2 linked regions of the Homo sapiens genome follow. The protein of the gene in region 2 interacts with the protein of the main gene of each other region in a biochemical or structural test. Each region holds a gene or a part of one and is shown on either strand. Other genes may lie near its edges. The genes, in order: SEC23B and MAN2A1.

Evidence for each region.
Region 1: the proteins of MAN2A1 (region 2) and SEC23B interact in a test that uses a peptide from one of them, tested with the Homo sapiens proteins (one study listed by BioGRID).

What each region holds. Positions count from the first base shown.
Region 1 is NC_000020.11:18,544,998-18,560,069, reverse strand, and holds part of SEC23B (protein transport protein Sec23B), read right to left. Parts: intron 14,115-15,072; coding exon 14,037-14,114; intron 11,462-14,036; coding exon 11,300-11,461; intron 8,982-11,299; coding exon 8,895-8,981; intron 5,836-8,894; coding exon 5,680-5,835; intron 4,963-5,679; coding exon 4,897-4,962; intron 1-4,896. UniProt on the Homo sapiens protein: Component of the coat protein complex II (COPII) which promotes the formation of transport vesicles from the endoplasmic reticulum (ER).
Region 2 is NC_000005.10:109,681,829-109,697,458, reverse strand, and holds the start of MAN2A1 (alpha-mannosidase 2), read right to left. Parts: upstream 7,533-15,630; 5' UTR 7,042-7,532; coding exon 6,907-7,041; exon of another isoform or gene 6,360-6,906; intron 5,578-6,359; exon of another isoform or gene 5,557-5,577; intron 1-5,556. UniProt on the Homo sapiens protein: Catalyzes the first committed step in the biosynthesis of complex N-glycans. It controls conversion of high mannose to complex N-glycans; the final hydrolytic step in the N-glycan maturation pathway.

The sequences.
Region 1 (15,072 bases), on a different chromosome or scaffold from region 2:
GGAAATAGTTAACTCTTTAAATAATGATTCTAGGTAATTTAAATTTTCTTATTTTTTAAAACATATTCAAATTTTCTAAAATGAAACCATACTGTTATAATTAGAAAAGTGTAAGCATGATCAAAATGTTTTCAGAGGATTTCGAGGAAGGAATAGAATATATACTTTTCTCTATTCCTCCCACTAAGTACAACTGAAAACTTCGGGCATCTTATGTAAACCAAACATAAGAAGACTTTTAAAGGTGGAGAGAAGACAGAAAAACTAAAGACCTTGGGACCCAAGGATGCACAGCAGTGAGTTCCTTGGGCTTTCTTATGCCTCATATACTCTGAATTTGGAGCTGAGGAAGCTGGCAAATTGTCATTGAGCACAGACTCAAACAAAACAAAACAACAAAAAACACCCACTTTCTCTAGCCAAAGGACTAAAGCAGCCTAGCAAGACAGAACAATCTTAGATAATAACCACTGTACTCCGGGCAAAAATGAGAGGAAAAACTGTGGCCCTGACCCACCTGAACCAGCAAAGGCTGGGTGGGCAGCTACAATTTCTACCCTCACAAGGCAGTAACAAGGCACCCTAATACTCCCACCAAGATGGTGCCAGAGAAGGCTAAGTATGGAACCAGGAAGTTCATCCCCAATGGCCAAGTAAAAAAATTTTCCTACCCCTGTGGTGTCAGTAGAGGCCATTTGGGGAGCCTGGACTTCCACCGCAACCTGGCAAAATATATGTCCCTCCGCCTGCCTACTGGGGTGGCCTCAGAGGCCTGGAGGAGGGTCAGGACTTTCACCATCACCCAAGTGTAACAAGGCCATCTCCACAGCGGTCTCACTGGAGGCTATGGGGGAGCTGGAACTCTCATTCCCACTAAGCAGTAACAAGAAATCACTAGACACCCCGAGGTGTCAACAGAGGCCAGTGGAAAACCTGGACTTCTCCACCTGGCAGTAATGGAGCCCACCAGTGCCCCCGACACCCCCCCCACCAACCACCTTCCCTGTCAGAGTAGTGTAAGAAAAAATCAGCGAAAAGTAGCAGGTTTAAATAAGATCCAGGGTCTCATACAAACACTCAAGTGTCCAAGTTTCAATAAAAAAATCACTTACACAAAGTGATTACCAAGACCTCCACCTGAATTAAAAAAGACAAGTGACAGGTGTTAACACTAAGTTGACAACAATGTTAGAATCACCTGACAAAGATTTTAAAACAGCCATGATAAAAATGCTTCATGAGCAATTACAAACACACTTGAAACAAATGAAAAAATAGGAAGCCTCAGCAAAGAAACAACAAGGTCCCAGGAAAGAAGTGGAAGTCACGGAGAACCAAAAGGAAATTTTGTAACTGAAAAATACAGTGACAAACAAAAAGCGCAGTGCATAGGTTCAATGCAGAAAGAGAACAGAAAAAAGAATCAATACATTGGAAGACAAAACAATAGAAGTTACCCAAATGAACAAAAGAAAGAAAATACATGGAAATGTAGTACCTGGGGTACTGCAAAAGATCTAACATTCATGTCACTGGATGTCAAGAAAGAAAGAAAAGAGAGCAGGTGAAAAGGCATTCAAAGAAATAAGGACTGAAAACTTTCCTATTTGGCAAGAGATAGAAACCTACAGAAGCAAAAAGCTGAGTAAATCAAAACAGGATAAACCCACAGAAATCCATGCCAAGACATGTCATAATTACACTTTCTTCTCTGCCCCTGCCCATCCACCCTGAAAACTAACAACAGAAAAAGACTACTGGAAGCAGCCAGAGGAAAATGACACCTTCTCTACAGGGGAAAACAATGAGACTGACAGTGAACTTTTCATAAGAAACCATAAAGGCCAGAGGAAGCAGCACAATATTTTTCAACTGCTTAAAGAAAAGGGCTGTTAGTCAGAATCCTATATGCAGAGAAAATATTCTTCAGAAATGAAAGGGACGTCAAGACATTCTCAAATAAAAGAAAACTAAAAATCTATCACCAGAAGACCTATGCTAAAAGAATGGTTAAAAGTAGGCCAGGCGCGGTGGCTCATGCCTGTAATCCCAGCACTTTCAGAGGCTGAGGCGGGCGGATCACCTGAGGTCAGGAGTTCGAGACCAGCCTGACCAACATGGAGAAACCCTGTCTCTACTAAAAATACAAAATTAGTCAGGCGTGGTGGTGCATGCCTGTAATCCCAGCTACTCGGGAGGCTGAGGCAGGAGAATTGCTTGAACCTGGAGGCGGAGGTTGCGGTGAGCTGAGATCACACCATTGCACTCCAGCCTGGGCAACAAGTGCAAAACTCCATCTCAAAAAAACAAAAAAAAAAAAAAAAGAAAAGAAAAAAGAAAAAAAGAATGGCTAAAAGATCTCTAAAAAGAAAGAAAACAATAAAAGCAACCATGTAGAGAAATATAATAGGTTTTTCTTTTAAGACTTATCAATTATGTTTGATGCTTGAAACAAAAATTATAACACTGTCTGATGTGATACTAAATGTATGCAGAGGAAATATTTAACATAATTATATTACCGATGGAGGAGAGTAAAGTGTTGAAAAGGGAGGTAAGGTCTCTAGACTTCGCTTGAACACCAGTAGACTGTGATAAGTTATGCATATATGATGTAATACCTAGGGCCTGGCCAGGTGTGGTGGCTCATGCCTATAATCCCAGCACTTTGGGAGGCTGAGGTGGGAGGATCGCTTGACCTCAGGAGTTTAGGACCAGCCTAGGCAACATAGCAAGACCTCATCTCAATTAAAATAAAAAAACCTAGGGCACTTAGGAGCAACCACTTAAAAAGCTAAATAAGGAGATACACTCAAAAACATTACAAACAAGTCAGAAGGGAATCCTAAAACATGTTCAAATAACTCATGGGAAGGCAGGAAAAAAGTACGTAAGATGAAAAAAGAAAAGCAGAAAACAAAAAATAAAATGGCACACTTAAGCCCTAACATATCATTAATTACATTATATATAAATGGTCTAAATATACCAAGTAAGAGAGCTCAGCAGAGTGCATTAAAAACCATGACCCAACTATAAGCTGTCTATAATAAATTCACTTCTTTTTGTTTTTCAAGATAGCGTCTTGCTCTGTTGCCCAGGCTGGAGTGCAGTGGCGTGATCTCAGCTTACTGCAACCTCCGCCTCCTGGGTTCAGGCAATTCTCCTGCCTCAGCCACCCAAGTAGCTGGGACTACAGGCGCATGCCACCACACCAGCTAATTTTTGTATTTTTGGTAGAGACGGGGGTTTCACCGTGTTGGCTAGGCTGGTCTCGAACTCCTGACCTCGTGTTCTGCCTACCTTGGCCTCCCAAAGTGCTGGGATTACAGGCGTGAGCCACCGCACCCAGCCAAGAGTTTTTAAAAACCTACTGCAAACAGGAGAGAGGAAATAACAATGACTAGAGCAGCAATCAATGAAATTGAAAATAAAAAGATAATAAAGTCAATGAAATGAAGAGCTGATTCTTTGAGAAAATAAAGTAAAAGTTATTCAGATTGAAAAGGAAGAAATAAAACTGTCCCCGGCTTGCAGATGACATGATTGTCTAAGTAGAAATTTCTGAGAAGTTTACAAAAAAACTCCTAAGAGTAGTAAGCGACTCAGGAAGGTCACAGAATACAAGATAAACATACCAAAGTCAATTGTATTTCTATATACAGTCATCCCTCAGTATCTGTGGGGGAATGGTTTTAGGACCTCCTGTGGATCCCCAAATCCACAAATGCTCAAGTCCCTAATACAAAATGGTGTAGCATTTGCATATAACCTATGCATACCCTCCCATACACTTTAAATCAGGGGTCCCCAACTGCAGGCCACGGATAGTACCAGTCCTTGGCCTGTTAGGAACCAGGCCACACACCAGGTGAGTGGCAGGTAAGTAAGTGAAGCTTCATTTGTATTTACAGCTGCTCCCCCATCACGTGCATTACCACCTGAGCTCCACCTCCCATCAGATCAGTAGCAGTATTAGATTCTAATAGGAGTGCAAACCCTATTGTGAACAACGCATGTGAGGGATCTAGGTTGCATGCTCCTCATGAGAATCTAATGCCTGATGATCTGTCACCGTCTCCCGTCACCCCCAGCTGGGACCATCTAGTTGCAGGAAAACAAGCTCAGGGCTCCCACTGATTCTACATTATGGTGAGTTGTACAATTATTTCATTATATATTACAATGTAACAATAATAGAAATAAAGTGCATAAGTGTGGTGATGGAAATGCTGCACATCTTGACCTTAAAAATCTCAATATCCCGGTTGTGATACTGTATTATAGTTTTTGCAAGATGTTAACACTAAGGGAAAATGGGTAAAAGATACAGGTGATCTCTCTGTATTATTTCTTACAACTATATGTAAATTTACAATATCTCAAAAAAATTTAATTTAAAAATGTTTTAAGAAAACAGAATGAAAGGAAAGACTCATCTGAGAGAGACATAAATGCTGGGAGCAGTTAGATAAAGTAGTAATCAGGCGGGGTTGGGGGAAGAAAAGGGAAGGAATTAGGCTGGAAAGTGAGGAGGCGGCAAAACCGATGGTGACAAGTTGCCCTGTATTCTTGGTGGGGAGAGGACTAGGGGCCATGAGGCTGTGTGACGGAGGACACCACCATGGAGGCCACAGTACAGTGCTCTGTCCCCTGGCCTGAACCTGGTATGTTCTGCTGTATATTGTGGAAGGGGACACACCCAGGGAGCCCCCTCAACCTCCGGCCCAGTAATGTTATTCAACTTGTTTCCCTCCCCGCCACTCCCCAGCAAAATACCCAACTTACGCAGTTATTCTGTCTCCAGGCCAAAAGAGATCCAATTTGTAGAATTTTAAAACAAGTTTAAAAAAAAACTAGCTTAGCATCCTCCCCAAATACCTGAAGATTTCTTACCTGTCCCCAAGCATACAGGTTATTGTGTGTCTGAGATGGGTTCACTTTGGACAAAAGGAATCGAGCCTTTAACAACAACAACAACAAAAAGATTTAAAGATTAAAAAGTGACATTAATATTAATGTAACAGAAAAAAGATAAGTTTTTACAACATTTGTTTGGTTAAATTAGAATTGTTTTACTGCACAGTAATCTAATTAGAATTGTTTTACTGCACAGTAATCTATTTCTTTAGCTTAAGCCCACTGGCTCTCCATTTAAGGATCCTAAAACATAAAATATGTATTTTATCTTGGCAATCCCTTTACATAAGCACATTTTGACCACTCATTTTTTTTTTTTTTTTGAGACGGAGTCTCACTCTGTAGCCCCAGCTGGAGTGCAGTGGCACGATCTCAGCTCACTGCAAGCTCTGCCTCCCGGGTTCACGCCATTCTTCTGCCTCAGCCTCCCGAATAGCTGGGACTACAGGTGCCCGCCACCACGCCCAGCTAATTTTTTGTATTTTTAGTAGAGACGGGGTTTCACCATGTTAGCCAGGATGGTCTCGATCTCCTGACCTCATGATCCGCCCGCCTCGGCCTCCCAAAGTGCTGGGATTACAGGTGTGAGCCACCGCGCTTGGCCTGACCACTCATTTAAAAAGAAGTCATATTTGGAAGATTACCTGTGTGTCAATTTATGTCATCACATAAAATATTAACCATCCTGTTTAGATGTATAGCAATAACAATCTATCATAAAACGAACAAACCACTGGAGTTAGAACTCAGCTCACTCACCTGACTGCCTCCATGCTCCGTGTTGATGTAACGTGGCATCGGGAAGCGTGCTTGCAGAATTTCTTGAGCATCATCCAGTGGTGCCTGCAGAAGGTGCTTGAAGTTTTCATACTCGGGCATGTCCTGGTAGCCAGCTTTACGCCACTGGGCTATGGTCTACACAGAAACAAACCAACCAAAACTATTGTGGAAACTGTAATAACAGCCTTCACTGACACTGACATTCTACCATCGCCACCCAGAGCTTGTTTCTAGTGAAGAAGTCTAATATCAAAAATGACAAGCTTCAGAGGGAGAGCAAAGCAGAGCTACCGGCAGGAGGAGAAGCAGGAGGAAAATGCCCCCGCCTGCGCATTCCCCCAGGAATGTCAGGCGTCACTCATGCCTCCTCTCTTCTATATCAACTAGTTAACAAAGCCCATGGATTACTCATCCCAAGGAGCGGTGGACTCCCTCCTTTTCCACTTCCACTGTTATCACTCAGTCTAGCCTCTCATCTCCGCACATCTGGTAAGGAAAGGGATTTGTTGGCTGCCCACACAGACTCCACTCCCCCATCTCCTTTCCTAACGGCACACATATTACACTCCTCTGGTGAGCAGTAGTCATACAGACTTGCGTGCAATTGTCTCACCCCCATCCCCTGCTCCCCCTGGGCCCTGAATTGGGGTACCCTTGGCAAAGGAGACAAAAGCTGTAAGAATCAAAGTATGAGTGTTGATGAGGCAGTGAGGAGAAGCCATATGCTAAACTGTGGAAAGCAGACGATCTGTCTCCCTGACTACGCTACACATTTTATCACCCTTCCTTCTTTTATACTCATCCACAACTGGTCTAGAAAATATCTTGTATACACAGGAAATCAAGAAACATTCATTAACTGATTCATATACCTTTATAAATAAAGTGAAGTGCTTTCGCATGTTATTTAGGAGAACAAGAAGACAATGGAGAGGAAAAATGGAGAAAGAGGCTACAGCAAGTGTGCAATGTGTCTTAACAGAGCCATTAATATGGCTCCAGGCAGAGGATTCTCATCAGATGCCTCCTTCTGTAGCCTGCTCACTCCTTCTCAAAGTAGCAGTTACCGTTTTCCAGGTCTAAATGCTGTGATTGACTGTTGGCCTATGGGAAATGCCCACGAGCTCACCAGGGTCCAGAAGTTCATAAGAACACTCGCGTTCAGCACGCTCAGGACTTTGGGAAGGTGAGAGCAATGTCACTGTCTTTATCCTTAGAACCCCTCACTTGCACAAGAAGGTGCTCAATAAACAAGTGAATGAACAGGATCAGGGGTTGCAAAAGAAATGTCGATAAGGAGATGAGCTTAAGGCAAAGAAAGCTTCATCCTTAGTACAGTCGGCCCTCGGTATCTGTGAGATTGGTTCCAAGACCACTCCTCCCAATACCAAATTCCATAGATACTCAAGTCCCTCATACAAAATGGCATAGTATTTCATATAACCGATGTACATCTTCCCATACACTTTAAATCATCTTTAGATTACTTATAATATCTAATACAATGTAGAAACTATATAAATCGTTCTTGTGCTGTTTTTTTGGTTTTGTTTTTTGAGACAGAGTCTCACTCTGTCGTCCAGGCTGGAGTGCACTGGCTCGATCTTAGCTCACTGAAACCTCCACTTCCTGAGTTCAAGCGATTCTCCTGCCTCAGCCTCCCGAGCAGCTGGGATTACAGGTGTCTGCCACCATGCCCAGCTAATTTTTGTATTTTTAGTAGAGACAGGGTTTCGCTATGTTGGCCAGACTGGTCTTGAACTCCTGACCTCAGATGATCCGCCCACCTCGGCCTCCCAACGTGCTGGGATTACAGGCATGAACTACCACACCCGGCCTGTGCTGTATATTTTATTTGTATTATTTTTTATTATTATTTCAAAATTATTTTTAACCTGCAGTTGATTGAATCTGCAGAGGTGGAACCCGTGGATACAGAGGGCCAACTGTACTGATACCAAAGGTTCCAGTGGGAAGAGCAGCTGGTCATCCGGCTCTCAGTCTAGGACTATTACTGACAGCCTAGCACTTGCGTGCAAGTGGCTAGCAGACTGGGTGTTAACATGCTGAAAAAAGTTTAAAGTTATAAAATACTTAGGAGTATTAGAAAACTAACACTTCCTAAGTTACTGAAGGAATCCTGAAACACAATTTATATCTTTTCACGACATCAGAAATCATTTCTAATGGTTGGCCATTAGGAAACCAAATCAATAACCAATTTAAGAAGGTAGAGATCATACAATAGAAGAAAAAGCATCACTGAATATAAATATCACCATCATCTTCATTAAAGGATTTTTTGCCATAAAGATGCAAATAATTCAGAGGAGCCATTCCCTTTCTCAGGGCATGAACCCCACTGAGAAAGAAATGGACTGAAAGCTATCCACAGCCATCCTAGGGATCCACAGACACAGCGTAAAGTTCCCTGGGCCATGTTATTTCATCAAAGTACAACCTTAGCTCTAAACACTAACTCTGAAAGAACAGCAGTATGTATATAACTCTGAAAGAACAGCAGTATGTATAAAATATTTACTGAGGAGAAAAAACTAGTTTTGCCTAACTTCGAAGGTAATAATTTACAGTGATTTAAAATAACCACCTGAGATTTTTTTACAGCATATATTATTATTATTATTATTTATTTTTTGAGATGGAGTTTCACTCTGTTGACCAGGCTGGAATGCAGTGGTGTGATCTCAGCTCACTACAACCTCAACCTCCCGGGTTTAAGTGATTCTCCCATCTCAGCCTCCCAAGTAGATGGGACTACAGGTGTGTGCCACCACGCCTGGCTAACTTTTGTATTTTTAGTAGAGATGGGGTTTTGCCATGTTGGTCAGGCTGGTTTTGAACTCCTGACCTCAGGTGATCTGCCCACCTCAGCATCCCAAAGTGCTGGGATTACAGGTATAAGCCACTGCACCTGGCCCATACTTAACAGCAAATATGATTAAAATTAATAAATATACAAATACTCCAGGGATTTACTAGAATAAAAGCCATGGTGCTTTCTAAGCCCAAACTGTGGTTACAAATGTCATTAAAAACCTAACTTAATAAATAAGAGAAGAAAACAAAAACCATAGTTAAGGACAATAATTCTCCTTGTGTGCACATTAAATGTGTATGCCTTTTCTCCAATTTAAAAACAAAAAGAAATTAATTAATTAATAATATCATCTTACCTCACCAAGATAAATGACAATTTGAAAGAAAGTATCCATCAGCAAAATTCTGTCAGCTAGAATGCTGCTGCTATCCAAGAGTACTGGCTGAAGAAAAAGAGAGAGAAAGATGGCATTGGTCTTCCCTGCTCCCCACACAGCAACCACTTCCACCCGACCCTGATCCCATGCCTGGTATCCACAGCAAAGGCTATTTACAAATGGTGCCCAGCACAGTAAGTCACCCCTTTTCTTCCTGACATACTTCCACTTTCTGCTTCTGACTCATTCTCAACTTTGTAGGAAAAATAGGCTCCAAATAATTCCTCATCAATTGAGAACGGAGATTAATGATACCTTTTTTTTTTTTAAGAGTCAGGGTGTTGCTCTGTTACCCAGCCTGGAGTAAAGTGATGTGACCCTGGCTCACTGCAGCTTCGACCTCCTGGGCTCAAGTGACCCTCCCACCTCAGCCTCCTGAGTAGCTGAGGCTACAGGTGCATGCCACCACGCCCAACTAATTTTTTATTTTTTGTAAAGACAGGGTCTCACACTATGTTGTCCAGGCTTAATGATATCTTTTGATCTTGGAACGAAAAATAATTCTGAATATTCTCAGTTTTGTATGTATTTTAGCAATCTCTACAGACATTCTCTGTAGATGAGACAGAATACGGATACCTATATGAAAAGCAGCATTTAATACAAGTTTTTAAAGTTTACTACAAAATATAAATTATGGCTGGGCGTAGTGGCTCATGCCTGTAAACCTAGAACTTTGGGAGGCCAAGGCAGGCAGATCACTTGAACCCAGGAGTTCAAAGCCAGCCTGGGCAACATGGCAAAACCCCATCTCTACCAAAAACACAAAAAATTAGCCGGGCTGTAGTGGCACGTGCCTGTGGTCCCAGCTATTCAGGAGGCTGAAGTGGGAGGATCACCTGAACCTGGAAGGCGGAGGTTGCAGTGAGCCAAGATCGCACAACTGTACTCCAACCTGGGTGACAGACACCCCATCTCAAAAAAAAATACGTTTATTATTTATTTGTAAGTAATATTTTATATTATATAAGTATATAATTTATATTTATATATACATATATAATCATATACATATATATTTATATACATAGTTCTTATATATACATATATAATTTATTATATTTACATATACACATATAATTTTTATATATGTAATTATTTCTTTTTTATTTTTATTTTTTGAGAGGGAGTCTTGCTCTGTTGCCCAGGCTGGAATGCAGTGGCGCGATCTCAACTCACTGCAGCCTCCGCCTCCGGGGTTCAAGTGATTCTCCAGCCTCAGCCTCCCAAGTAGCTGGGATTATTGGCGCCATTCCAAGCTAATTTTTGTATGTTTAGTAGAGATGGGGTTTCGCCACATTGGCCAGGCTGGTCTCAAACTCCTGATGTCATGTGATCCCCCTGCTATTTTAGTAATTATTTCAATAATAAAAGTAAGTGGTACTCGATAAAGAAAATTTTTAAATGTGTACCCAAGTACAACAAATATTGATATTTTGTTTTTTTCCATATAGTTCTTTATTTTTGCAGGGAATATTTAGAAACGTTTCTATTTTGACTTTTTTTCATGTAACATTTTTACATAAGGACTTATCTATTTTATTATGTTACATACTTTTTGTGAATACTGTTGGCCCTCCGTATCGGTGGGTTCCACATCTATAAATTCAACCAATCTTGGACTGAAAATATTTGAAAAAAATATGCATCTGTACTGTACATGTACAGACTTGTTTTCTTGTCATTATTCCCTAAACCATACAGTATGACAATTATTTACATGGTACTTACATTATATTAGGTATTATAACTAATCTAGAGATGATTTAAAGTATATAGGAGGATGTGCCAAGGTTACATGCAAATATTATGTAATTTTATATTAGTAACTTGAGTATCTAAGAATTCTGGTATCTGAGGGAGGTCCTGGAACCAATCTTCCATGAATACTGAGGGTCAACTGCATTTCTCAGGTTACTTATTTATTTTCCTATATTAAACATTCGGATTGTTATTTGATCCTCTATTATAGTAGTTCCTTTACTATTTTTTTTTTTGGCACAAAGTCTACTCTGTATCTAGGAGTCTTTCCTTCAGATACAAGACATGGAATTGTTGGATGTAAGTATACAAGCACAAGGAAAAAGAAAGCATCCAAGTTATTTCCTAGAGTTTTTTACATTTATTCCTGCCTTTCACAAATAATAGCTTTATATGTCCTTTGACATTTTCCTAAAGGTATTTTTTAATAGAAATAATGTTAAATTACTATAAAAACTCCAAATTTTACTTCTTTTTTACAGTTCTGCTAAGTAAATTTGCTTAAAAAAGAATATATGTTAGGTGATTCCAATCCTCAGGAAAGCATTTGGGTAGAGCCTCACCTCTGGTGGCCCATGAAAGGAGTAAGAGTAGAGAATGGGCTGGATCATGATGAGGGACTGGGTCAGGTCCTGCCGGGCAAAATGATGTCTGTAATATGACGACTCATCAGGACTGTTGTTAAACACTTGAAGAAATGGAGATCTTCTCAGATGGAACATAAACTGCATTCACAAAGAACGGAAAGAGAAATGCATATAATTGTAACCTTCTTAGACACCCACAGAGTAGATCTACCTCAGGGCTCTGAAATAGGAGAACCCAGAAAAGGGCTCTCTGGTTTCACAGAACAGAAAGCATAAGGGGGCACCAGGGGCTAGGGAAAGAGGAAAACTGAGAGTTGTTGCTTAATGAGCACAGAGTTTCAGCTCTGCAAAGTGAAAAATTCTAGACATCAGTTGCTCAATAATGGGAATACACGTAACACTACTCAACGGTATGCTTAAAAATGGTTAAGATGGTAAATTTTGTTATGTGTGTTTTACCACATTAAAAATTAATTTTTTTTTTTAAAGGGCCTTTGGCCAGGCGTGGTGGCTCACGCCTGTAATCCCAGCACTTTGGGAGGCCGAGGCGGGCGGATCACCTGAGGTCGGGAGTTCAAGACCAGCCTGACCAACATGGAGAAACCCCGTCTCTACTAAAAATCCAAAATTACCCGGGTGTGGTGGTGGGCGCCTGTAATCCCAGCTACTCAGGAGGCTGAGGCAGGAAAATCACTTGAACCCAGTAGGGGGAGGTTGCGGTGAGCTGAGATCAGGCCATTGCACTCCAGCCTGGGCAACAAGAGCAAAACTCCGTCTCAAAAAAATTAAAAATTAAAAATTTTTAAAAAAATACAAAATTTTTTTAAGAAAAGGGCCTCTGGGTATGTCAAAGCTTCCACAGTTAAGAGGAAAGCCAAAGAAATGTTTATTTCCAGAGTCACTGTGCCAGGCAGTGGAGACAGAATATCTGCTCTCAGAAGTCAGGCCCAGTGAGAAAGGCACACTCGGGCTACGAGTTATGAGCCAGAGTACAGGATAGCAGTGGGGAGTGGGGGTGGAGGGCCAGGAGGAGACTTCCTAGAGCTCCGGGGACTGACAGTGCACCCTGAGAGACGTGGCTGAGGAGGCCACAGGGCCAGGGGGAAGGGGATTCCAGGCACAGGAACAGCAGATGACAGCTCAGGACACAAGCTGGGATGGTGAAGTGTTGGTGCAGGGGAGAAAGGGACAAGGGATGACACTGCAACCATAGGTTCTCGCCCTCGAGGATGAGAAGAAGGGGTGGGGGCAGACTTTCAGCTCACATTAAAGAGTTGCCAGAACACGAAAATGAGCTGCCTTGTGAAGTGTAAAGCTTCCTGAGACTCCAAATATTCAATCATAGGTTCCTAAATAATAATCAAGGCTGACATCTAATACATCCTACATGCAAGTCACAAAGCACTTGACAAGAACTATTTAATCCTTCCAATAAGCCCATGAGGTAAGTTCTCTTACCATCCCTAGTTTACAGGTGAGGAAACTGAGGCACAGAGGGGCGAGCAACTTGTCCAAGGTCACCCCACTACTGAGTGTCACAGCTGGACTCTACACCTGGCCGCCTGGCTCTAGAGACTGGGCTGTTGGCCTCTTTCCTAGAATGCCTTGACAGAAGGAATCTGAGAAAGCATTTCATCTGGTTTTCAAGCTGTGCTCTTAGAGTCTTCATCAAGTCCTCAGGGGCCCAGGGATGAGGGCTCTGGTGGGACCCAGTGTGGGGGTGGTACACAGGCACAACCAGAGAAGCACCAACTCTGTCTGCTTTATGTGCTGGCTTTTAAGGGCAGCTCCTCTCAAAGAAAGGATTCCATGGCTTTAAAAAAAAAAAAAAAAAAAAAAAAAACTGCAAACCACTTCACCAGACCAACTCCCCACTGCTAGAGGTGGGAAACCAAACTCTACGGGGCTTTGGAACCTCCTCTAAGGTCAGCCCCTGCGGAGCCAGCACTGGAACCTCAACCTGACTCTGGCCGGTCCAGGGCTCTTCTCACAACACCACACAGCTTTAACCTCTGGCACATGGACACCTCAGAGTCCCAGGCACCTGCTATGGAGCTAGGTCACATTTAGTGCTGAACAGGTTACTGGCATTGTGCTAAATATTTAATACTCAGTTGGCCTCAGCTCCTGTAATCCTTATAGACACCCATGAATTGTGCTCTATTTCCTAAGTTACAATGGAGACGGAAATTCATCTACTTCTCCTGCTCCTCTCTCTTGTCCAATGGCTTCCAAAGGCTTGGTTCATGCAGAGTGCAGTTACTTTCAGGAGCTGCTTATTGCTCACTCCTGGTTATGATGCACATAATAACCACAGACATATTATTAAATATTTGTTGTACTAACTGTGGTTTTGTTTTGTTATCTTCATCTCCATGTGTGCTCATTTTCTTGGTTTGTTGCTGAGGTAGCTGTTTCCCCAGAACTTCTACACATGAGAGATATTTTTTACGGCCTTATATCAATGATCCTATTTTGCCTGTTCATGAAAATGTATGCATGAGTTTTCTCCCCTCTGCATGTCATCTCTATCTTCTGTAGGGCGTAGGGTGCTGTCTTGCCTAGACACATATTCGACTTGGGTTGAACAATCTCTGTCACCTACAGACTGAGTCTCAACACATTAAAAAGTCTTCACTTTACCCTAAGAATAAAGTTAATTTCTATCAAAATTTATTGCTCTGTAGTTATTTTAGAAACATACATTACTTACCTGAGGATATAGAGAAAAGGAATCTGATAACCTAAAAGAAGTGGGGTCTTCTTTGTTATACTGTCCAAACTTTTGACACTATGGAAAGAAAATACCAAAAAACAAACAAACACACACAAAAAGAGAGAGAAAAATCTAAGTTAGCATTACCTGGAAATATTCCTGGACTAAGCTACATCCAGTCTGAACTCTGCCACTTACTATAAGTCCTAGACTAGCACTTCTCAAGCATCAGTGAGCAGGCAAATGACCAGGGGATCTTGTTAAAATGCAGACTCTAGGGAGGAGCTGAAGATTCTGCATCTCTAATCAGCTCTCAGGCAATGCTGGCCTGAGGACTGCCCTAACCAGAGAAGCTAGGTGAGCTCTTCCAGGCACCTGTTCCATATGAAAACCCTCTAACACCATGAAAACTAACAATTATAGTTACGCTTTGATGTTCTCTCACACTAAAACTCAAATTTATTTCTCCCAATGGCAGACTTCTGAACCACAATGTTTTCTCTTCCCGCCTTTATTTCTGCTCACACATTTCTGGTCACTAAAGAATTGGACTGTTCATCATTTAAAGAAACCCCATTTCTAACAATTACTTTCTTCCCACAAAATCTGGTGTCCTTCCGCAGTTCTCGTCTTCTTGAACTTCCTAGCAGCATGAGCCAGGTGACTGCCCAAATGTCTCGAAACTTTCTCCTTCAGCTGCTAATACATCACTTTCCTATTTCTCATAATCTCTCCAACCAACCCTTTTCTGCCTTCTTCAATGGTTTTGTCTTCCTCCTCCCCCTAACTGTGGACTCCTTGGGGGTTAGTTCTTGGCCCCCTCCTCCCATCCTCACTGCTTTGGGTACAAATGAACACTAGAGCCAGATGGGTGTCATCCAAATCCACCCTCCAGTGTCCAGTGCTGACCTATAGCCTGAGCCCCAGTCAGGACATCCACCCAAATATGGGAGTTTTCGTGAGACACACTTTTGCAAGTTCACATTCAATTATCAAAAATTATCAAAAATAAACTATTACATTAAAAAAAGAG
Region 2 (15,630 bases):
AAGAAGGAAGATTATTTGTCAAGAACTTCATTCTTTCCCTAACCTCCCACCTCCACCCCACTTTCGTAAAAAATGCTATTTAGAGGACAAAATGAAATGATCAGGAGGAAAGTCTCTATCCACTCTCCTTATTTTCCAGTTTCTTTCCCTGCTTTTTCTCATCTCAAGAAGATATTTAAAATGTTGTAACCAGAATCATCAAAATTAACAGAAATAAAAACAATACACTGAAAAGTAAACAGTCTGCCTGAGAAAACTGCAGACATTTCAAAACATTTTTGCAGACAATTTTTATACTACCTTATTAATCAATATATCTTATCTTCCTATGCTAAGAGGAATAAATCTGGATAAGTGCCAACCTGTAATTCAGCTGGAAGAAAGTAAAAGATGATCTATTTACAATGACCTGACCCTAATGTTTTTCTCAGAATACACACGTCCAATTGGAAAAGAATTTTTTTACGTTCCATTATAAGAATCTTCCATTTTTTCCTTCAACTTACCTATGAACATAATCTATCCTTGAAATTTTTTGTAACATACTACAATCTAGAATCCTAAATGTGTAAGTGAATTTCAGGCATCCTGAGAAAGAATAGAGTTCACCCATCAAAAAATGCTAATTGGCTTTTTGAGCTTCGGCCTTTTGATCAATCCTTCCTAAAACACAGAAGTGCTAACGACATGTACTGGGTATAAAGAAGAGGCCACAGCCAACACAGTTTCAACAGGGATGATTCCCACTCCCAGAGGATATTGAGAGCAGTGTCTGGAGACATTGTTGGTTCCTACAACTAGGGGTACAGAGAGAGAACAGTGATGTTGGCAGATATCGGGTAGACAGCAAGGATGCTGCTAGACACCCTACAACGCACAGGACAGCCCTTAACACGAAAGAATTCTCTGGCCCAAAATGTCAACAGCAAAGAGGTTACAAAGCCTGGATAGAGGCAGCAAATGGTAGAGTATGTCCAGTTTTAAACTAAAGTACTTTCTCTTCTTTAGAAAACAGTATGTTAGATTTAGAAATTTAACATTAAGATATTTAAGAGATACCAACCAGGCGCAGAGGCTCACGCCTGTAATCCCAACATGTTGGGAGGTCAAGGCGGGCAGATCACGAGATCAGGAGATCGAGACCATCCTGGCCAACATGGTGAAACCCCGTCTCTACTAAAAATACAAAAATTAGCTGGGCATGGTGGCTTGTGCCTGTAATCCCAGCTACTCGGGAGGCTGAGGCAGGAGAATCGCTTGAACCCGGGAGGTGGAGATTGCAGTGAGCTGAGATTGCACCACTGCACTCCAGTCTGCCAACATAGTGAGACTCCGTCTCAAAAAAAAAAAAGATATATACTAGATACCTACTATCCACCTGTCTGCATAAAATATAATTACCTTAAACAGGGCACTCTTTCAGAAAAGCTATGATATGACCTCAAGTGACAGAGTTCATCAAACCAAATGATTTACTTCCTCCCTATTATAGGCACATTTAGCTATACTCACTAAAGCACTAGATGTGAGCTCCATTTCAGTACAATTAATCCTCAAACCTGTCTGAATTTAAAAATGGTTTCAAACTTAAAAATAGCAGCTTGGCTTGATAACTGAAACAGAAACCCATTTTAGTTAAAATGTCCTACTTCCTCTCCTGATTAACCTACTAATAACAACTGAGAAGCAAAAATCACTATTTTAGAGTTCTTCCTCCTTGCCTTAGTTCTGCTCAAACTTTTATAAAAGCTGCTGCTATCAGGAACTTTTACCAAGACAGAAGGGATAAAAAATGCAATAAGGCCTTTACAATCCAGCAAATACAGGTCATCAGAGCTGCTAAATATCCTTTCATTTTCTTAAAGATTACAGAAGTTGGAGAACAAGGGAAAACTAAGACTCCTGAATGCAAAAAAAGCTAAGAATAAACCAGGTGATCAGCAACAGCTAGTGAACCACTCATTCCAGGAAACTCTCAACACTTCAGTCCTTCAAAAAAGACTAAAGTTTTCAGTTATCACAAAAAGCAATAGCTGACTCAAAAACAAATAAAAGTGGTCATTTTAGCCACTATTTTGCCCACAGCCCAGACACCTCTTAATGCAAATTAAAAGCTAAGAGAGAAAATCCCCTTCCAATAATACAATTGTGACATCTCCCTGACAAAAATATTTGTTTAGGCCCTGATAACAGTGTTCATCTGGGAACAACACACCCAATTCAATTTAAAAAAAACAAAAAACAAAACATAAACTACTATCTTCAGACCACAGACAGTCATGAGTATCTGGCCCAGTTGGTTTACAGGAAATAAGTTTGGGTCTTAGTGAAAAATGCTGATCAGGAAGAGACCCACAGGGCTGTTGGACTGAAGAGGAGTTAGAGGACACCATCCTCAAAAGGCTCTAATGTTTGTTCTTGCATTCCTAAATGCTGGATGCACTATCAACGTTCCATCACTTCCCAAAAAGCACAGATCTCCGCATTATATCCCAGAAAATAAGACAATCTCCCTCATACAAACGTGAACAAACCCCAGCACCAAGTGCTATTGTTTATAAATAGACTGCACTCAAGGAAGGGGAAGGAGATCATATTTTCCTTATATGTCATTCTTAAGTAAGATTTACAGATTTATGAAAGCAAGAAAAAAACTGGGGAATCAAAGTCCTAGTTATATGTATTGCCATGAGTCAACTTTCATTAATAACATCTACTATGCTGGACTCTTAAGTACTACTGATGTAAAGTATGTAAGCACATTTCTGTATGTGTATTACAGTAAGTTAAAAAAAAAAAACACAAAAGGCAACTGGGAGCAGTGAATCACACCTATAATCCCAGCACTTTGGAAGGCTGAGGCAGGAGAATAGCTTAAGGCCAAGAATTTGAAACCAGTTGGTCAACATAGTAAGACCCCGTCTCCACAAAATAAAAATTTTAAAACTGGCTGGGCACAGTGGCATACACACCTGTAGTCCCAGCTACTCAGAAGGCTGAGGTGGGAGAATGGCTTGGGCCCAAGAATTCAAGGCCACTGCAGTAAGCTGTGATTCCATCACTGCACTCCAGCCTGGATGACAGAGCAAAACCCTATCCCAAAGAAAAAAAAAAAAAGGTATACAAGTTCTCACCTTCTAATGGCTTTCAATCAAATGCTTATTTAAAGGCATTCTCACTTTCTCACTTGATAAATGTTACATAGGCAAAAAGATAAAGTTTTAACTTCACTTTCACATTTTCCATCGGAGTCTCAATTTCCATATTTTAAGAGTTAATATTAATCTCTACGGTCATATGCTACACTAATTACTTAAAAAGTGATCATTTGTTATACAAAACCTGACTCATTAATTTACTTCTCCAGATCCAAACATCAGACTAATTAATAAGACAACCCTATTATACACACCATAGATAGTAAGCACCTTGTGAAATCTGCTTGTAAGAAGTGATGACTAATTTCAGGGAGACCTTAACAAAGTTTCTCCTTTCCATCTGCTCAAATTCTTCCAAGTTATCATAAAGCATTTTCAAGACATTAGTCTCTGACCAACCTCTCATTCACAGTGGAATTTTTATTAATTTTCTTAGCTGAGATTTATTAACCCTGAAATATACACACAAGTTTCAACAGATTAGGCCCCCTGTTGCCTCTAGTCCTCCAAGGAATTCCTCCCAGAAGCAGAAGCAAGGCTTCGGAGTGCTTCAGGATAGACTTCCAAAGAATATCTTAGAGGCAGGCAGCTGTTCCGGGGTGAGAGAAACTGGAGCACCCTCGGCCAGCCCACTCTTGCCCCAGAGTCCAGCCAAATGGTGGAAAACACCAGAGTTGTGAGAGAAGAGAAAAAGAACAAACCCCCGCTCTCCAAAAAAACAACAAATAGATTGCTCTCAATCTAGGATGGTCTTTAAAAATATCTTGTTTACAAGATAGACCTAAAGCCTAGTGAAGGTTCCGTATCAACTGAAACCAACTAAATGGGCAATTTAGAGGAACCCAATACCTATCTAAATAAACCGTTCTACTAGATACCAAAAAATGACACATAGTGACCGACCTGCTTGGCTCTACTAAAACTCAAGAATTCAATACCCAAACTTGCCAAACAAATGTATTGCAACCTCCTTTTGCTATGTTTGGTATTATTAAGAATAAGTTAGAAGCAGTGAAAAAAAAAAGAATCAACTCAAGTTCTGGATGCTGGACTACACAATGGTTTTCATTATAATGTTTAGCTCTGAAATGAGCTCAAAGACATTCTGGGAAGGGTATAAATCTCTAGCAGTAAATGTTTCAGAAAAAGGACCATATTCATTATGGCTTCAAAATAAAAGTTCCTTTAGTCATAAGCTAAGGTACCAGAGAGCAACATGCTCTATACAGGGGGCAACCAACCCCAGGGCCATGGACCTGTTAGGAACCAGGCCACACAGCAGGAGGTGAGTGGCATAGCAGGTCAGCAAGCATTACCGCCTGAGCTCCACCTCCTGTCAGATCAGCAGCAGCATTAGATTCTCATAGGAGCACGAACCTTATTGTGAACTGCGCATGCCAGGGATCTAGGCTGCATGGTCCTTATGAGAATCTAACGCCTGATGATCTGAGGTGGAACAGCTTCATCCCCAAACCATCCCCCGAAACCCCCGACTCCCCCCATCCCCACCCCTGTCTGTGGAAAAACTGTCTTCCAGGAAACCAGTCCCTGGTACCAAAAAGGTTGAGGATCACTGCTCTATATTTTACATCAGATCTTTCCATAAGCAAATGGCAGCCTAAACAGTAGGCAACAGATTCCTAAGAGGCAAGACAACTCAGTGGCTGGGAGCCTGGGCTACAAAGGCTACCTGTTCAAATCTCAGCTTGCAGCTGTGTGATCTTGGGCAAGCTAATTAATCTCTCCGTGCCTCAGTGCCTCAGTCCCCTCGCCACTTAAGTTTTACCCTGTAAGATACGAAGGCTAATGTCACACACATAACGGTTAAGCTTACAGAGGGGTCTTAGAATGTCTATCTGCTTGAGGATTCAGTGGCCGTCCAAGCACTTAAAGAATACCTTCTTTCTGCAGTGAAAATCCAGTACAGAAAATCTGAGAAAGGCAATCTTAAATGCAAAATGTTCCACCTCCCAGTTGAGTACCAACAGCCTTCCCCTCCAGCAGCCACTTTGACCTTTCATCAAATGCTTTACGCTTAAAGCAGAACTTCAGCCTCTCATTGAGGACTAAGGATAGATATTACAATACTGGAATTAGCTTTGCCTAAGATTTCTCAGTAACTGAATGAGTCACTCATGTCTTTAGATTCTGAACAGAGAAAATGTCAAGGTTGCCAGAAAACCCAGGTCCAGATGTTTGCATAAACCATTTTCAAGTGATCATCAAGCCAAAGCCAAAGGACATTATTTTAGAAAACACTTTAAGTAAAAATATCACTTTTTATGATTTTCCTGTAATGGAGGAAAATCTGAAAATGAGGTTACTGGAGGGAAAAAAATTACAGTAATTTCAACCCCAAAATTACACAACATATCAAGCTAAGCTTAAAACTCCTTACCTTTTTCCAACTGTTTTCTTCAACCTCATCAAGAAGCACTGGACAAGCTCTGAGCTCAAGATTTAAAGATGCCCTCAGTGCTTGTTTCTATTTTCTCTGTCATACTACCTAGGGGAAGCAGAGGCTTTTAAAATTTTGATACATCTCTCTGCAGCAAGATTTTTAAAACCTCTCACCGACAAAACATGTTGAGTGCTCTGTATTGATGACAGCATCCATAAAAGGGTCTTTTTTCACTTTCACAATAATTCCAGTAAAGTTTTTACTTTAATCTCAATTAAATTCAAGCCATTTGCTCTAGCATAACACAAAAAAAATGGCAAGGATATTCTTTGGTCATTTAAGTTATCACAAAAGAGAAAAAAATATATATCAACTTCACGTCTAGGCTTCTCTTTCTCGTAAGTCAAGTAGGAATAGTTAGATTGCCCTGTCAGGGTTTGAGTTCTTCAGGTTCATTCGTTACAGAGCACACTACACACTACACAATACCCAGTTTCACCGCAATTTCTGAAGTGCACGGGTTATATTGGCAAGTAACTTGAAACTGAACTCGCACATGCCGCGCGGTGGATACCCTTCCAAAGGGAACAGACTGTGTCCGCTTTGCTTATTTTTGGTAACTTTAAATAAGACTTTGGATGGGTCGTCTTCCCAACTCATTTACCAATTTAACCACTGGACGCAGGACTGAGCGCCCCACAGCTTTCGGCCGGAGTATAACACGCGCTTCCCCACTCGGTTCCCCCTGTCTGCCACAAACAAACCAGATGTAATAGCTGAAGAATGACGACACTAAAATCAACCTAGAGATTCACATCTAAAAGGGCCGCAACACGAAATAAACTTCTCTCTCTTCAGAGGCAGCGGGGAAGAAAAAGAAAAAAAAGCCTAGGTGGGTTCGGTTTGATCCATTTCCGCGACTCCGTGCGCTCAGGGGCTCTGGGCTGGTGCGGGCGGCTTAACCCTGTGAGAGCCGAGAACGACCCCACCGGGATACGCGGGCCCCGGGCTGGCGGGGGGTGCCTCACGCCGCGCCCGTTCCCCCGCCAGCAGGTGCCCGAAGCCACCCCAACAGGCCGGGTGCGAATGCCGGAACATGGCCACTTTCCTGAGCGGGATGATGCCGCCGCCGCCGCCGCACGCCGCCCAGCACTTTGTTAACTTGGCGCGCCCGGGCGAGGTGGCTCCCAGGAGGTGATCATTGCCGTCCGAGAGCTACAGAGCCCCTGGCCTCGCCCAGCACGGGTGTGGGGCCGCGGCGGGAGGAAGAGGTTGGGTAGCAGCCGCTAACCAGGGGCCCGCACGCCTGGCCCCTCGGAGCCCCGCGCCCCCTTCCCAGGTGCTTACCTGAGGGAAGGAGCCCTCGCGGCGCGGGTTCCTGGGGTAGTCTAAGTGACCCCGGTCCAGCATCAGGTAGAGCGAGAAAATCACCACACAGAAGATCGCACTGCCGAACACGGTGAACTGGCGGCTTAACTTCATTTTCCTCGATAGACTCGGGGCCAGGACACTCTCCTCAGCCAAAGGAGACAGCGCACTGTGGACTCTAGGAAGCAGCCGCCGGAGGCTCCCTTCTCCCGGGCTGCGCGACCTCCGCGCTCTCGGATGCGGGTGCGAGTCCCCGCCTTGCTCCGCACCTAGTCTCCGGCGCCACCACACGCCCTTGGCCTTCGCCCTGGCCTGCCGCCCTCCCCGGGGTCGGGCGCCCCTCTCGAGGCGAGACTCGCCGGCAACTGGGAAGGGGGGCCCCCACAAACTTGATCGCAAGCTCAGCGCCGACCTCCGGCAGGGCGCGCGGGGCAGGCGGAGGAGAGGTCGCTGCCCGCACTTCCTGCCACCGCCGCCCCAACTGAGTCGGCAGGAAAAGTTTTCTCGACGAGGGCAGGCGTGTCCTCCTCACCCAGGGGAGGCGCGGGTTCGGCAGCTCCCGGGCCGGGGCCGCGCAGCTAGGTCAGAGAAGCGGAGGGGAAAGGAACAAGATCGCGAGGAGCCAAGCCCTACAACTTCTGGGCGGGACGGTCGGGCCCGCCCCCGCGGCACCGGCACCGCCCCCGCCTACCCCGACTGAGCCCCTTCGTGCTGCTGCCGCCGCCGCCGCCGACGCTGCGGCTGGGCCGATGTGCACCCCGGACTCCGGGGCTCACGGATTGATGAGTTTCCTCAGAGCTAGCGTCCGCTCGCCAGACTCTCCCGCCCCCCGCCGCCCCTACCTTCCCCCTCCCGGACCCAGGCTCCGCGGGGAGGCGCAGGGGGCGGGCGGCGGCAACGCGGAAAGAAGGAAAAGGAGAGCAGGGAGGAAAGGACCGTCCCCGGAGAGAAGCCCGCTCCAGCTGCAGCCGCTAGCCCCCTCCCTCTTTCCCGCCCCACAAACGCGGAGATGGCGGCGGAAGCGGCGAAAGGAAGCGCCGGTTCTCCAGCGCCACTTGGCGCTCCAGCACCGCCCGCCACGAGCAGGAGGAGACAGCGGCGGCGCAGCAGCCGCTGGGTCAATAGGCGCCCGCAGCGCCTGAGCCGAGCGGGCGGCTGGCCCCGCCCCCTCCCGACGCTCCGAGATGAGGGGGCGGGCCCCACGGCGCCCAATCACAGCGCGTCGCCCGGCGGACCCGCCCCGCGCCTGCCTCCCAGTGTCCCGGCGATAGGAAGACCTCACAGGGCTCTTGTGACCTGGCAGGCAGCTTTCTGGGAGTTGAGGCCTTCGGGGGCGTTCAGGCGCCAGCACCCCCACGTCCAACAGGGGTTGAGCTTACACCCCACTTCCCTTTGTTGCTCAGGTTTCCTATCCTAGGACACTCGGGCCTGGCGTGCCTGGAAGAGTACTTGGTGACGGGCTGGAGGAAATGCAAGAGAAGAGGGCTTGCACATTCTCTTCGGGCTCACTATTTCCTCCTTTGGTGACAGCCTGTTAAAACCTGGGGGAAAGGAGACTGACAAAGGGCCGTCCAGGCACATGTAGAAACATCTGACTACGAAATCCATGAGTGTAATCTGAGAAGTGATGCTTCTGCCAGTTATTGATTTATTGCCTCTCAGCTCCAAATTCGCCCTTTTTGACTGCACTGTAAAAACGGATCTGAGCCTTTTAAACAGTTTTTCGTTTGCCTTCTGGGACTGAAGCTTTATCAGCAGAGGGCGCTGAAGAGACATTACAGAAAAAAAGGATTTTGCTTCCTGATTTCTGTGTATTGATAAGCTTTTGCAGCATACCTGGCTTTCTCCACTGCCAAGGTCCTATAGTGCTCAGTAACTAGCAATTTCCTCTCACATGCCCAACTCTAGGAGCTTTGTAGAGGAGGTGAGACACTACCCCATGAATAACTTCCCTGGCACCCTAGAGGCATTTGCAGCAAGTTGCAGAGGGCACATCTTCCACAAGCTTTGCAGACGTAGCCCAATGGTGACTTCTCTGCCATTCAGTGAGCCAGGTCATGCCCTCTCCAAAAACGTCTAGATCTTAGCCCTGGGAGGAATTGGGGAGGTTCTTCATTGGGCACTCTGTCTCTCAACCCAAGAGTTAGTTATAAGGTTAGCTCCTTATAGCTGCTGTTGCTATATTCTTTAAAGTTCTCTTCTTGCTAGTGAATCCTTCATTACTCTAATCCTCTATTATAGTTAACAATTCTTTTTATTAAGCCTTCCCTGTCCCGGGAGTAGTCCCAAGAAATAGACCTGCAAAGATGGGATTAAAGGTCAGTTTGATTGAGGTTTTGAGCTTTAGCTCCTTGCCAAAGGGAAATGTAATTCATGACATGCTGGGCATCTCAATTAAGCAATTACCTGTGGTTGATCCTGATGAAGTGCCAACTGAAGCCTGTGCCTTGGGGCCCCAAGTGGCTGCTACACTTGACTGCTATGGTTATAAAGATGACTAGAAAGACTGGTGTGGGATGGATTCTTTTGCGTGCTTTTGAGTGGTTATAAAGAGAAATGACAAGCACAGGTTTTTTAACTCTCAGAGTTATGGTATGAGAACCAGAGATATTCTGCAGAATTCCAAAAGCTCTGGTTTATTGTAGCAACAAGAATTATGCTGAGAATCAAACAAAATTTTAATTTTCATGTTACTGAATTATAACTGCTATTAAATTCACACATATTCTGAGTTTTTCGTGTAAAATGGTGTTATTTTTTAATAATAGAATCTCAATACTTGAAATGGGTTGGACCCAGATGAAACCGACAATCTTAAACACGCCAACTCTTTCTCTTATCAGTGGAAGTAGGTTGCCCTCCAGTGTCTAAAGAGACTAGCCTTGCTTGAAAACCTTGACTATAGAGGATGCCACTATCTAGATGGGCTCCCTGATTTCAATGGGGATGACACGATCTCAGAATAGCAGAAACCAGGCAGCACATAACCAACAAAGACAAGGTGGGCGCACATGTACCTTAAAGGGCAGCAGGAAATCAGACTGCCTTGGCTTACGGAGCTGCTCTGAGAACAAAATAGATAGGCAGTTGAAATAGATTATTGCTTGATATTTATAACAGGTAAAAAGATCTAAGTCAGGTAGCCAAAACCTGACTTGAGTCACCACAGTGGATAGTCACAGTCTCTCAGTTCTCAGACCTAAGTCAATTCACAGACCCATAGTCCCTTGGTTGAAAGAGAATCTGTGTTCCCTTTAAGAAGGATCTTGCACCTTGGCTACAGTACACATGGCAAATTCTTTCAAGCTTTCCCCAAAACGACATGTGGCCATTTACTAGTGAAACTGCATTGGCGAAAAGGAAATACACAGATCATTTGAGGTTTACTAAACACTGGCTCTGAGTTGATGCTAATTCCTGGGGACAGAAATCACCACTGTTAGTCCACATACCAACTATGTGGCTACTTTCCCAGTGTAATTGGAATATGTATTAACAGCATAATTTTAATGGCAAAAACAGCAATTACTTTTGCACCAATCTAATAATTGTAACAGACATACTTAGCAACTGACAGGATCCCCACATTGGGATTTAGCCATAGAATGAGGGCTATTATTAGGGAGAGCTAAATGGAAGCTCCAGGAGCTCTTAGAGCTTCCACTTAGCTCACTAAACACAACACTGCATGGCTGGCAGGAATTGCAGGAATCAGTGCTATCATAAAAGTCTTAAAAGGAGTAGGAGTGGTGATACTTACTCTCATTTAATTCACCAGTACAGGATACATCTAGTAGAATAACTGTGGACTCATAAACTTAATCAGGAAGTGATTCCAATTGCTGCTGCTGTCTCAAATGTATTATTTTTACTGAAACAAATCAACATAGCACTTGGCACTTGGTATATAGCTACTGATGTGGCTAATGCTGTTTTCTCTATATCTGTTTGTAAAACCACCAGAAGCAGTTGGCTTTCTCATGTTAGGGCCAACAGGATACCTTCACAGTATTGTCTTGGGGGTATGTCAATTCACCTTAATATAGTCCACAGAGATATTGATTGTCTTGACATACCATCAAATATCACACTGGTCCACTACATTGACAACATTATGCTGATTGGACCTGATGAGCAGGAATTAGTAAGTATTTTAGGTGCTGTAATAATATATATTTGAACCAGAGAGAAGGAGATAATGATCTTGAGTATGAGATGACAACTCTAAAGTGGTCACTTCGGATGTGGGATATGTTCTAGGATGGTAAAGCTATATGAGGACAAAACCACTGAGTCACTGAGAGATGAATCCAAACAGATGGTGTGGGTTAGCAATGGTTAGGATTTGGGGGAAAAGGGGCAAAGTGATTGTTGCAGGGACTGGTCATACCAATCACGTGGCCATGGAAGGAAAGTGGTATAGGCTGAATGTTTCTCTTTAAAATACACGTGTTGAAGTCCCAACCCCCAGTACCTCAGAGTGTAATAGTATTTAGAGATAAGGTCTTTAAAGAGGAGATTAAGTTAAAAAGACGATTAAGTTAAAATGAAGCTGTTAGTAAGGCCCTAATCCAATCTGACTGGTGTCCTTATAAGAAGAGAGAGAGACCAGGGATACATGCACACAGAGAAAAGACCATGTGAGGACAGATTGGGATGGCAGCCATCTGCAAGCCAAGGAGAGAGGCCTCAGGAGAAACCAAACCCGCTGACACTTTGATCTTGGACTTCTAGCCTCCAGACTGAGAAAATAAATTTCTGTTGTCTAAGTTAGCCAGTCCTTAGTATTTTGTTATGCCATCCCTAGCAAACAAATACAGAAGGCAACCACCCAGCTGATAGAAAATACTAGGTAGGTGCAAAAGTATTTGCGGTTTTTGCAGGTAATGGCAACTGTGATTTTTTAAAGGTAATGGCAAAAAAACCGCAATTACTTTTGCACCAACCTAATATTTGCAAACCACATATTTGTTAAGGGACTAATATCCAAAATATATAATGAACCCACATAATTCAATAGTAAATAAATAAATAGCCCAATCTTAAAATGAACAAGTCACCTGGATAAACATTTTTTCAAAGAAGACATACAAATGGCCCACAGCTAATATTAAAAGGTGCTCTAGGTCGGGCACTGTGGCTTCTGCCTGTACTTCCAGCACTTTGAGAGGCTGAGGCGGGCAGATCACTGGTGAAATCCGTTCTCTATTAAAAATACAAAAATTAGCCATGTGTAGTGGGAGGTGCCTATAATCCCACCTACTGTGGAGGCTGAGGCAGGAGAATCGCTTGAAACCAGGAAGCAGAAGTTGCAGTGAGCAGAGGTTGCACCACTGCACTCCAGCTTGGGTGACAGAGCAAGACTCCATATAAAAAAAAAAAAAAAGGTTTTCTAATCATCAGGCAAATGTAAATGAAAGCCACAATGAGATATTACCTCATACCTGTTAGGATGGCTACTAGAAACATGTCAAATAATAATAAGAGTTGACCAAGAAATGGAGAAAAGGAACCCTTGTGCACTATTTATAGGATTATAGACTGGTAGGCCATTGTGGAAAACAGTATGAAGTTCTTAAAAACTTAAAAATAGAACTACCACATTATCCAGCAATCCCACTCCTGTGTATATATCCAAAGCAACTTCTCTTTTTCAGAAAATTAATTTGGATGATCTTGATCACTTATTTACTTTACTGAAATAAGATTTTACTATCACTTATGAAAAAGCTGTATGTTTTCCTATTGTTACTAACATATGAGTCTTTAGGTCTCCAAAAGCTGACAATAGCCATTCCAAGAGATGTGAGGTGTTATCTCATTAGATAGCTGCACTCCCATTTTCATTGCAGAATTATTCACAATAGCCAAGATATGGAATAAACCTAAGTGTCCATCAACAGACAAATGAATAAAGAAAATGTGGTATATATAAACAATGGAATACTATTCAGCTTTTAAAAAGGAAGGAAATCCTATCATGTACAACAACTTAGATGAACCTGAGGAACATTATGTTAAGTGACATAAGCCAGACTCAGGAAGACAAATACCTCATGATCTCACTTATACTGGTATGTGGAATCTAAAGAAGTCAAATTCATAGAAATAGAAAGTTGTATGGTGGTTGCCAGAGGCTGGGAAGTGGAGGAAATGGGGGGATTTTGGTCTAAGGGTATAAACCTTCAATTATTAGATGAATAAATTCTGGAGAGCTAACAAACAGCATGGTGACTATGGTTAATGATACTGTATTGTGTACTGAAAATTTGCTAAGAGGATAGATCTTAAGCGTTCTCATCATCCACAAAATAATGGTAATTATGTGAGGTGATGGATACGTTAATAAGCTTACTTGTGGTAATCACTTTATAATGGATACATGTATCAGAACTTCATGTTGTACACCATAAATATATACAATTTTTATTTACCAATAATACCTCAATAAAGCTGGAAAATAGATTGATAGATAATTGATAAATTGATGATAGAGATATACAGATAAATTAGATGATAAATACATAGGATGGATAAATAGATGAGATGACATAGATGACAGATAGAAAGATAGATAGATGATAGATAGATAGATAGATAGATAGATAGATAGATAGATAGATAGACAGACAGACAGACATTCTGGTTTCCCCAGGACCTTCAGAACAAACCTAGGTGCCTATCCTGGGATACAATCTTTTCATTTGGGAAAGATATGAGAAATTTTATCCTCCCTTTGGATCAGAGCAATTATCTCTGTCATTAGGGAAACAAATTGCTACAGATTTAATCCTTATGCTATGAGAAAATTTTCTAGCAAAAGTGAAAGCAAACATTCTCTATAGTGTACATGTTTCTGGGGCTCAGGAGGCTAGAGCTTTTTGTAGGAACACTGAAAATAGAGGGAAGGGAAGGTACATGAGGGCAGAACCCATATCATAAAGGTTCAAATTTGATTGCTTCTCCAGTACATAAAGCTTTTGTGACTTTGGGAAAGTTACATAATATCTCTAAGCCTCCATTTTCCAACATATTATATTGGGGTAGTAACAGTGATCTTTCAGCCTTGCTGTATGATTGCCACAGGTAGTGACATATTGGGAGAGCATTCACCAGATACTTCCATTTACTCTGGGAAAGGGAAAGATGGGTGCAATTGAGAGGTGAGTAGGGGAGAGAACATTGGAAACAGCTGCTATGGGACATGGAGAAGGAAGTCCATGTGGATAATTGGAGAGCATTGATTTCTCATGGAGCAAGTTCACCATTTTCTCCCTTGTCATCGATCTATGGCTTGAGAGCTCAATGAAAGTGTACTGTGAGCATAATCCAGGAAGAACCCCTTCTACCAGGATGCAAGAACAACGGCCACCCAAGGAATGCTCCAGGTTGGGAGCATATCATAGATATCTGTCATTTTTCCTACCCACTGATATACATTTTTGCAGTGAAGATTAAGTTAAAGTGAGCACTCAATGTAATTTTGAATAGGAAAGGTCTCGAAGGAGTGCTTGGGGTGAGGTTTCTGGAAGGCATGAGGTCTAGCCCCATGCTTCTGGTGATAAGTCTGTATGTGCACAAGAGCCTCAGCTTATATTTGCTAACAATAGGAAAATCTATCTTTTCTGTCAACTGATACTCTAAGTCTGTCTGAGCTCCTCAAAGGCCTAAATAGATCATATCTAAGGGGGACAAATTGGAAAGGAGTAGGACAAAGTTCTAAAGCCTAAAAACTTGAGAAAATTTTATAATTGTGGTTGCATAAAACTATAAATGAATGCGGGTTTAATCCTTTTCTCCACTCAACCTATTGTGAGAATCAGTCTGTCAAAGCCCTGAGCATCCTTACACATTCTTTCTGGGTATGCTAAGAATGCAAGGCCCTGACCATTATTTACTTGTGTCCTCTCAGGGTTGTGTTTGCAGGGAGCAGCCTTGAGCAACAGAGTAATGTCTTCTCCCAAACAATGAGCAGACTGACTTACCACACACTGTAAAGCAGTAAATTCCTCAAGCTCAATATTCCTTTGCTGTGACAAATCCACTGTGTATGTTGCATCCACCTGGACCCTTTCCCTCAGACCCTGTGGGATCTGGGGGACATGAGAAACTAGCACCGACATCAGGCTCAACATCTTCCTGTCTCTTTAACATCTTCCTTTGTCTCTAATCAGGGTGTCTTGTGTTTTCCACTGACATCCACGAAACAGTAGTGACCCCTCGACCTTTTACAGATCTTGAAATTACCCACCTACCTCAGAGACTCTTCATATTGTTGGCATAGCCTTTACCTCCCTGTGCCTTTCTTCCCATGAAAGGAAGCTGCAAGAGAGGATGAGTCAAGTAGCATAATACACTGCTGAGAGAGACATAAGAAGGTAAGGGAAGGAGAGCTGGAGAAGGACTTTATTCTTTATAACCCTTCTCACTATTTGAAATTATGTATTGACTTATTTTATGTCTATCCTCCCAATAGAATGCAAGCTGCTACAAGTCAGAGACCTTGTGATTCAACATTGTATCTTAGTGAGTAAAATAGTGTCTAGCAATATTGAGGCCTAATAAATATTTGTTGAATGAGTGAATACTAATCTTGGTCCTGAGCTACCAGTTGATGTGGATTGGTGGTGCCCATTATGAGTTGCCCTGGCTCGTAATAGATGTCTGTTTGCTTTTGAGCTGCATTTAAAGCTATTCCTTTTG